2 linked regions of the Homo sapiens genome follow. The protein of the gene in region 1 purifies or fractionates together with the protein of each later gene. This does not show direct contact. Each region holds a gene or a part of one and is shown on either strand. Other genes may lie near its edges.

The links. Proteins that work in one complex are often made in the same cells at the same time.
Region 2: the proteins of ZNF567 (region 1) and DDX50 purify together in Homo sapiens (co-immunoprecipitation; one large-scale study listed by IntAct). This does not show direct contact.

What each region holds. Positions count from the first base shown.
Region 1 is NC_000019.10:36,685,211-36,691,200, reverse strand, and holds the start of ZNF567 (zinc finger protein 567), read right to left. Parts: upstream 3,590-5,990; 5' UTR 3,567-3,589; exon of another isoform or gene 3,323-3,566; intron 1,805-3,322; 5' UTR 1,704-1,804; exon of another isoform or gene 1,504-1,703; coding exon of another isoform or gene 1,480-1,503; intron 1-1,479.
Region 2 is NC_000010.11:68,914,815-68,918,314, forward strand, and holds part of DDX50 (ATP-dependent RNA helicase DDX50), read left to right. Parts: intron 1-3,500. UniProt on the Homo sapiens protein: ATP-dependent RNA helicase that may play a role in various aspects of RNA metabolism including pre-mRNA splicing or ribosomal RNA production.

The sequences.
Region 1 (5,990 bases):
GGGCAACGGAGGGAGACCTTGTCTCAGAAACAAACAAACAAAACAAGAAAACAAAAAAATCCAAAGTATCCTGGAGGCCCTTCTCCATAAATCCATGCAACTGATCCCTTTTCATGGCTGCATAATACTCCTCAGTGGCACTGTACTTGGTTAATCCAACCAGTTTCCTTCTCTTGGATATTTGGAATTCAATTATTTCTTTACACTTTCCAAAATAATTCCCTGTGATGTAGATCCAATGACCCTCACAAAAACCCTGAGTGAGGTAGGTCCTATTATACCTGAAATTGACTAACATGACTAACACAGGAGACACTCATGGCTTGCTCAGTGTTACACATTGCAGAGGTGGCCTAGCCAAGATTTTTTAAATGACAGCATTGAGATATAATTTACACACCATAAAATTCATCCATCTAAAGTATACGATTCAATGGTTGTTGGTATATTCACAAACCATCATAATGAACAATCATCCACAACCTAATTTTAGAACATTTCAATCACCATGAAAGAAACTCCAAAAGAATGCATGCCAAATTTAAGATCATTAAGATGTATGCCTATGTGTTTTTTCCTAAGAGTTTTATAGTTTCTTTTGTTTTGTTTTGAAACAAAGTCTCACTCTGTTGCCCAGGCTGGAGTGCAGTGGTGTGATCACGGCTCACTGCAGCCTCGACCTCCCTGGGCTCAGGTGATCCTCCCACCTCAGTCTCCTGAGTAGCTAGCCACAGGGGCGTGCCACTACGCCTGGCTAATTTTTGTATTTTTGTAGAGACAGGGTTTCACTAAGTTGCCCAGGCTGGTCTTGAACTCCTGGACTCAAGCAGTGCACACACCTCAGCCTCCCAAAGTGCTGGGATTACAGGTATGAGCCACCAAGCCCCACCAAAAGTCCTATTTTAAAATGTGCTCTTTAATAACATATCATGTAATTAGTAAAGTCACTTCCTTTGTATCTCTTATTTTTGATGACCACTGTAAATAAGTCTTTTTCCCCATACTTTCCACATACACACACACCCCCTATTTATTTGTTAATGTTTTTTCCAACAACCCTGAGTTTTCTAATTGTTATCACTGTTCAATTTTTAATAGGATGAAAACTTAGAAATATTTCTGCCTCAGCCTCAGCTGATATCCCAAAGATAGCAAATGAAACAAAATTCTAAGAGAACTTCATTCAAGAACAGGATCTTATAGAGCTGTTGAGTGTAAAATTTTGCTATCATTAAACTCCTCCTTTAAAGACAGTGGAGAGGCTGAGAGAGGAGCATGTATTTTTAAGAGACTGTTATTTTTAGAACAGTGTTTTTCCAGGGGGAAAAACGTGAGTGATTCTCCCTTTTTTACAACACACAAGGGGTCCCTCAGACCCTGAGGCCACCAGGAACCAAAGTGGTGAGAGAATTCTTGGCAAAAATTTTACATATTTCTAAGATTTGGGAGGGCAAAGTGACTGAGGTGGCTAATTCTCACCTTAGCACTAGGTGAAGACCCCATGGGTGGAGGCTGTCTGGGTTGTCTTGGGTCCTATCAAAGAGGAATGACTGGACAAACCCACCCACCAGAGTCGGTGGGCCACTGAATGCCCAGAGGAAGCACTGGGGCAGCAGCTGGAGAAGAGGCTATGCCCATGAGAAGGGAAGTGTATCTGGAGGTTCCAAGCAGCAGGTTCTCTTGGAAGGTAAGAGATGACTTACACTAAATTATAGTGGTATCAGTCATGTTAGCCTCTTCTTGTCTCTGACTTCTGTCTTCTCATTCCTTTCCCAGCTCCCAATCCATGAGAGCTAAAGACTGCCTATAGGGAGTAAAGAGGAGACAAAATAAAGGTTGGGGAATTAGAGAAGAAACTAATCATGTATCCTTTCACATTTCAGGCTTCCAGCAGAAGAAATTCATCCAGCAAAAAAAAAAATAAATACACACACACACACACACACACACACACACACACACACTCTCAAATAGGAATTTTGAGAGTGGCAGTTATGAGATAAAGTTTTTTTCTGTGTGGTCCCAGTGGTATTCTATTCATTTAAGCATATCAGTCATCAGTCAATACCAGGTTTCCCAATAAATGATCTTTTTTGGAAGGGAAGGGACGGAGTCTCGTTCTGTCGCCCAGGCTGGAGTGCAGTGGCGCGATCTTGGCTCACTGCAACTTCCACCTCCGAGTTCAAGCGATTCCCCTGCCTCAGCTCCCGAGTAGCTGGGGCTACAGGCATGCGCCATCATGCCCAGCTAATTTTTATATTTTTTAGTAGAGACGGGGTTTCACCATGCTGGTCAAACTCCTGACCTCAGGTGATCTGTCCGCCCCAGCCTCCCAAAGTGCTGGGATTGCAGGCGTGAGCCACCGCGCATGGGCCCAATCTTTTTTTTTTTTTTGAGACGGAGTCTTGCTCTGCCACCCAGGCTGGATTGCAGTGGCACGATCTCGGCTCACTGCAAGCTCCGCCTCCCGGGTTCACGCCATTCTCCTGACTCAGCCTCCCAAGTAGCTGGGACTACAGGCGCCCGCCACCACGCCCGGTTAATTTTTTGTATTTTTAGTAGAGACGGGGTTTCACCATGTTAACCAGGATGTTCTCGATCTCCTGACGTCGTGATCGGCCCGCCTCAGCCTTCCAAAGTGCTGGGATTACAGGCGTGAGCCACCGCGCCCGGCCCGCATGGGCCCAATCTTACCCTCTGAAAATTATTTTGCCTCTTCCTCTCCATTAAAAAAAAAAAATCACTACTTATTTTACTTGTCTAATTACCAGAGTCAAATTCTACAGGCATATATAAAATGCCCAATACTCATAAATCAATCTAAACAATGCATACTTTAGTCAACACTCGGTTTCTCAAGCACTCCACCTAAGTCACACAGTGTGCCACATTCACAGTCATCATAGGTCGTGTACACCAAATACTTTTAAAATTAGGCATATTCATAGCTGTATCACCCACTACATAGTCATAATCCCATAGGCCCCCACGTCGTGCACAATTTCACAGAACTTCTACAAAAAGTAACAACCTTTCACTCACAATGCCCTCACTGTCGCCTCTCCAGAGTCGGACACAGGCTCAAACACAAATCGACTCGCATCTAATTTAAATTAAAACTTAAGACACGCAGGGACCCTATCACTTTCATAAACAACCGGTTCCACAACGTCACACAGAATAACACATTCCCCTACCACAACACACAGGACAGGTACGAAAAGCCACACACACACACACGGAGCGCCTGTTGTGTGCCAGGCCGTGCTCCAGGAGCCAGGGGACGAAAATCAGACGAAATTCCTGCCACTGGGGAGCTCACCCCCCGCCTCGGGCAACCGGTTCCCTTCTTCAGGTGCTCCCGGGCCCGCGCTCTGGTTCCTGCTTCCCTCCCAGCCTTCTCTGAGGCCCGGACTCGCACTTTCCTCCAGCCAACTCCTCGTCCCAGGTTGCTCCTCTTCCCTTCTTGCTTTCCCCAGCCCAGGCTCCCGCCTCCCTCCTCAGCCTTCCTTACGGGTCACACCGTCACCCGCCTTCTCCGCGCCCGCGGGACCCACCAGCCTCACCTTCGGTTGCCGGCCGGGCGTCTGCGCATGCGCACTCCCACGCGGACGATGCCTCCCAGGTGTCTCCGCGGCGCGTTCCTGCTGTCCACCGGCTACGCGCGCCTTCTCCACATCCGGGCGTTTCCGGCCTTGGACTACATTTCCCACAGGCGCCCGGGCGGTTTTCGAACTTTGATCTCTGGTTCCCCTTCCAAATTCTCATAGTGCGTGGCTGGGATGAGGGCGGCGCTCACGGTGAGGAAGCCCCGAGCTCCCGGGACGCAGACAGGGTGTGCAGGGCCGTAGCTCGGGCCTGTGTATGCACCTGTGCGTGTGTGTTTGATGCCAGGACAAGGCGGCGGTGTGCGCGGCGAGGAGGCTGCGACAGGTGCGTGATTGTGTTCCTGTCCCTGCTCGGATGCGGGACCTTTGGGTGGCCGTGGTCGGCTGTCGGGTGTGTGACACTGTAGGGTTTGAGACCTTCCATCATGACAGTGCTGCTGTGGCCGTGTGATGGAAGAGCCTTTTAGGTCTGTGGTGTTGTGTGTGTAACGGGTAAAGCTTCATTTCTGCAGTGCTGTGTTTAATGTTGGGACTGAGGGGTCTGTCGAAGATCTCCCCAATGTGCCTGTGAGGACTATGATCCATGCCTATGTTAAGCAGAGTCATCTTGCAATGAAGCATGGCCCGCGTTGTCTTCTCAGGGCACACCTGTCCCCAGTTCTCAGCCTGGTGTTTGACACAGGGGATCCTGGCGGAGTGCCCACCTAAGCGGCAGTTTTAGACTCGATTGTTTCTTGGGCTCTGCATCTCTGAGTTCCCAGCTTCCTTTTTTCTCCCGCTTTATAGCTGTATAGACCCCAGCTGCAGTGAAATGGCCATCAAAAAGGGAAGGGATAATCGAGTGGTGGAATAAAATCTGCAAACAGAAAAAGGACAGACCTGTTTTCGGAACGAGGCTTTTCGAGTTGTAAGTGTCCCTTAAGCAGAGTTCTGGGAAGACGTCGTGGGGAGAACCTAGGAGTAGGATTCCTTCCTCAGAGGCTCTCCCTTGGGAACTCTCAGAGGTCAGGTTCCATGTGATCCACATCATTCCCAGAGCTGTCTCCGCAGGAGACTTAACGTGAATTTTGAGAAAGTCCCCAGTCCTGGATATCAGTGACCCTGGCCTTTCCCTTGAATACTAAGAAGGGTTAGCAGTACTCCCATCTCCCTTTTACTTCCATCTGAGTATGTTTATGGTAGATGATGAGAGCTCGTGTGGTGGCAATAATTTTTTCCAATTTAGCCAATCTGGGTTCCAAGAAAGGTCTGATGTCTCATGATTCCTTACCCCTTCTCCCTTGCCTTGAGGTTCTCTAAGAGCCCTGAGGAAAGGGAACCATTGCTGAGCATATCTGAAAACCAAGGTCAAGGAAGTTTTGTTGTATTTTCTATTTTTGTTCTCTTTGATTTTGTTTTTCAGCAAGGGAGTATTTTTTCTCCTCCTGAAATGCTAGTCAGTGGTTAGGTTACTATTAGGCAGGGCCTTGTGAGGTGCTTTGACCAATAGAATGTGGTGGAAGTGATATTGTGAGACTTCTGAGACAAAGCTTCAGGAAGTCTTGCAGCTTTTTCTCTTCCCCTTTTCCTGCCCTGAGACCACCATGACTGAAGGCTAAGAGCAACTTGCTTGCGCATTAAAGATCACTTGGAGAGAGAGGTCCAGTGAGCAACAACGGCCAGAAATTTCAGGGAGACCATCTTGAACCATCCAGCCTCCACCAGGCCAACAGCTGACAGCTGTCACATGAATATGATCAGCAGAAGAACCACTCAGGCAAGCCAAGCCCAAATTGCCAAGCCCCCCAAATAATAAGCTAATTGTTTTTTGTTTTAAGCCATAAACTTTTGAGGTGGTTATATAGCAATAAATAACTGAAACAGGTGTTTAACTTTCTAGACTTTTTAAATGACCATATTGATATAATTGTATTGTTCAACCTGTTTTGTAAAGTGATTTCTCTGATACAGTATCTTGAAAATATTCCTTAACTATTTTCTACAACTTTGCATTTGTCTATCTTAGTATTATATTACATGGATATGTGGTAACTTATTTAACTACTAACTTCCCTTTGCAATTCCTTTTCCTTGCTGTCTAGCTCCCATGTCTTGACCAACTTTGCATTCCCCTCCAGGACCTTATGGGCACATGGGTTCCTATCATTTCACGGGTATGTAGACTCAGGAATGTGGCATTGACTTCTGGGTGGAGTACAGATGACTGACACCCCCACCCCGATTCGGAGGAATTATTCAGGGGTGTGATATAACACCTACATACATTTATTTAACTAGCCAATTTGGTCTCCCCTTTTTTTGTTTTGAGACCGAGTCTTGCTCTGTCGCCCAGGCTGGAGTGCAGTGGCGTGATCTCGACTTACTGCAACCTCCGCCTCCCAG
Region 2 (3,500 bases), on another chromosome or scaffold:
AGTGTGAGACCAGCCTGGCCAATATGGTGAAACTCTGTCTCTACTAAAAATAGAAAAATTAGCCGGCCTGGTGGCGGGCCCCTGTAGTCCCAGCTATTTGGGAGGCTGAGGCATGAGAATCACTTGAACCCAGGAGGTGGAGGTTGCAGTAAGCTGAGATTGCGCCACCGTACTCCAGCCTGGGTGACAGAGGGAGACCCTGTCTCAAAAAAAAAAAAAAAAACCACAGAAGTCAGAAGAAGAATCCATAAAGGAAAAGGTTTATAATTTTGACTCCATGAAAGTTAAACCAATGGTATGTTTAAAAAAAGAATTAGGGCCGGGCGTGGTGGCTTACGCCTGTAATCCCAGCATTTTGGGAGGCTGAGGCAGGCGGATAATGAGGTCAGGAGATCGAGACCATCCTGGCTAACACGGTGAAACTCCATTTTTACTAAAAATACAAAAAATTAGCCGGTCATGGTGGCGGGCGCCTGTAGTTCCAGCTACTCGGGAGGCTGAGGCAGGAGAATGGCGTGAATCCGGGAGGTGAAGCTTGCAGTGAGCCAAGATCGCGCCACTGCACTCCAGCTTGGGTGACAGAGCGAGACTCTGTCTCAAAAAAAAATAAAAGAAAAAAAAGGCTGGGTGCGGTGGCTCACGCCTGTATTCTGAACACTTTGGGAGGCTGAGGCGGGCAGATCACGAGGTCAGGAGATCGAGACCATCCTGGCCAACATGGCGATACCTCGTCTCTATTAAAAATACAAAAACTAGCTGGGTGTGGTGACCCGCACCTGTAATCCCAGCTACTTAGGAGGCTAAGGCAGGAGAATTGCTTGAACCCGGGAGGCGGAGGTTGCAGTGAGCCAAGATCGTGCCACTGCACTCCAGTCTGGAGACAGAGTGAGACAACATCTCAAAAAAAAAAAAAAGAAAAAAGAACTAAAGGTAATATTTACCGTATTTATGACAGGCAACTAGGTAACATGTCATCTTTCTATTTAATAGATGCATATATATGTGTATGTAGGAAAGACTAGGTGACTAAGTGAATAGTAGTATCTGCAGAATGTAATGCAGTGGTTAAAAACAATCAGTGATAAAAACCAAATTATACAATGATGTATACAAAAATTACACTATTTTAAAAAATAAATAGTGCTAAATGGATTCCTTAGGCATTTATGTAAATATACAAACACAGGTTGAAAGAATAAACATCAGATAATGATTACTTCTGGGAAGGGGCATGCTGGATGGTAAAAAGAAGCTTTGTGGGCCGGGCGTGGTAGCTCATGCCTGTAATCCCAGCACTCTGGGAGGCCGAGGCGGGTGAATCACGAGGTCAGGAGTTCGAGACCAGCCTGGCCAACATAATGAAACCCTTTCTCTACTAAAAATACAAAAATTGGCTGGGCATAGTTGCGCACGCCTGTAGTCCCAACTACTCGGCAGGCTGAGGCAGGAGAATTGCTTGAACCCAGGAGGTGATAGTTGCGGTGAGCTGAGATTGCGCCACTGCACTCCAGCCTGGACAACAGATTGAGACTCTGTCTCAAAAAAAAAAAAAAAAGAATAAGAAAAAAGAAGCTTTTTTATTTTGTAATGGTTGAAAGTTTTGCAGTAAGAATGTAAAATGTATAGTAAAAAACAGTTGATAAGAACATTTTCAAACATATAAAATTGAATAGTAAATTGAATAGAAAGATTGAATAGTATAAAGAACATGATATACCCATTACCTATTACCAGTCTTTAACAATGATCTTTTCTTCACCCCTGCATTTGAAACAATCCCAGTCATCATTTTATCTTCAAGTAATTGTATGTATTTCCAAAATGATAACTAAGGGCTCTTTAAAACCACAGTCATTATCAGTAGAAGAAAAACAGTAATTTTTTTTGAGATGGAATTTCACTCTTGTTGCCTAGTCTGCAGTGCAATGGTGTGATCTCAGCACGCTGCAACCTCCACCTCCCTGGTTCAAGTGATTCCTCCTGCCTCAGCCTCCTGAGTAGCTGGGATTACAGGCGCCCACCACCACACCTGGCTAATTTTTTGTATTTTTAGTAGAGACTGGGTTTTGCCATGTTGGCCAGGCTGGTTTCGAAATCATGACCTCAAGTGATCCGCCTGCCTTGGTCTCTCGAAGTGCTGGGGTTACAGGCGTGAGCCACTGCGCCTGGCATAGTAATTCTTTAATATCATTAAATACCTAGTGTGCACATTGCCCTTGCTGTCTTTTTTAAATAGTTTGTTTGAATCTGGATCCAAATACAATTCTTGACGTTGCTACTGATTGATATGCGTCTTAAACATTTTATAATCTATAGTTCCTTTTTTTTTCTTTGCAATTTTCTGTTGAAAAAACTCATTTGTTGGCCAGGCGCAGTGGCTCACACCTATAATCCCAGCACTTTGGGAGGACGAGGATGGTAGATCACCTGAGGTCAGGAGTTCGAGACCAGCCTGACCAACATAGTGAAACCCTGTCTCTACTAAAAATACAAAAATTAGCAAGGCATGGTGGCACGTGCCTGTAGTCCCAGCTACTTGGGAGGCTGAGAAAGAAGAATCGCTTGAACCAGGAGGCGGAGGTTGCAGTGAGCTGAGATCGTGCCACTGAACTCTAGCCTGGGCAACAGTGTGAGACTCCGTCTCAAAAAACAACAAAAAAACTCATTTGCCTTATGAGTTTCCCACAGTCTGTTTTGCTGATTTGCATCCCTGTGGTTTTTATTTTTCCTTATTTTTTTACTGTTAACACCACTCAAAGATGTGGTGGGTTTTCTTGTTTGTTCGTGTTGTGTTTTTGTTTTTGTTTTGAGAGTCTTGCTCTGTCGCCCCGGCTGCAGTGCAGTGTGGCATGATCTCAGCTCATTGCAGCCTCCACCTTCCAGGTTCAAGAGATTCTCCTGTCTTAGCCACCTGAGTGGCTGGGACTACAGGCATGCGCCACCATGTCCGGCTAATTTTTGTGTTTTTAGTAGAGATGTAGTTTTGCCATGTTGGCCAGGCTAGTCTGGAAGTCCTCACCTCACGTGATCCACCTGCCTCCGGCTCCCAAAGTGCTGGGATTACAGGTGTGAGCCACTGTACCTGGCCTCCCCGTAAGTATTTTAACATACATATCTTTTTTTTTTTGAGATGGAATTTCACTCTTGTCGCCCAGGCTGGAGTGCAGTGGCGCAGTCTCAGCTCACTGCAACCTCTGCCTCCGGGGTTCAAGCGATTCTCCTGCCTCAGCCTCCTGAGTAGCTGGGATTACAGGCGTCTGCCACCATGCCCAGCTAATTTTTGTATTTTTAGTAGAGATGGCGTTTCACCACGTTGGCCAGGCTGGTTCAAACTCCTGACCTCAGGTGATCCACCCGTCTCGGCCTCCCAAAGTGGTGGGATTACAGGCATGAGCCACTGCGCCCTGCCTATATATATCTTTAACTAGAGTGCCATATTTACAGTTTTTTAAATTGAGGTAAAATTCACATAACTAAAACTAACCATTTTAAAGTATACA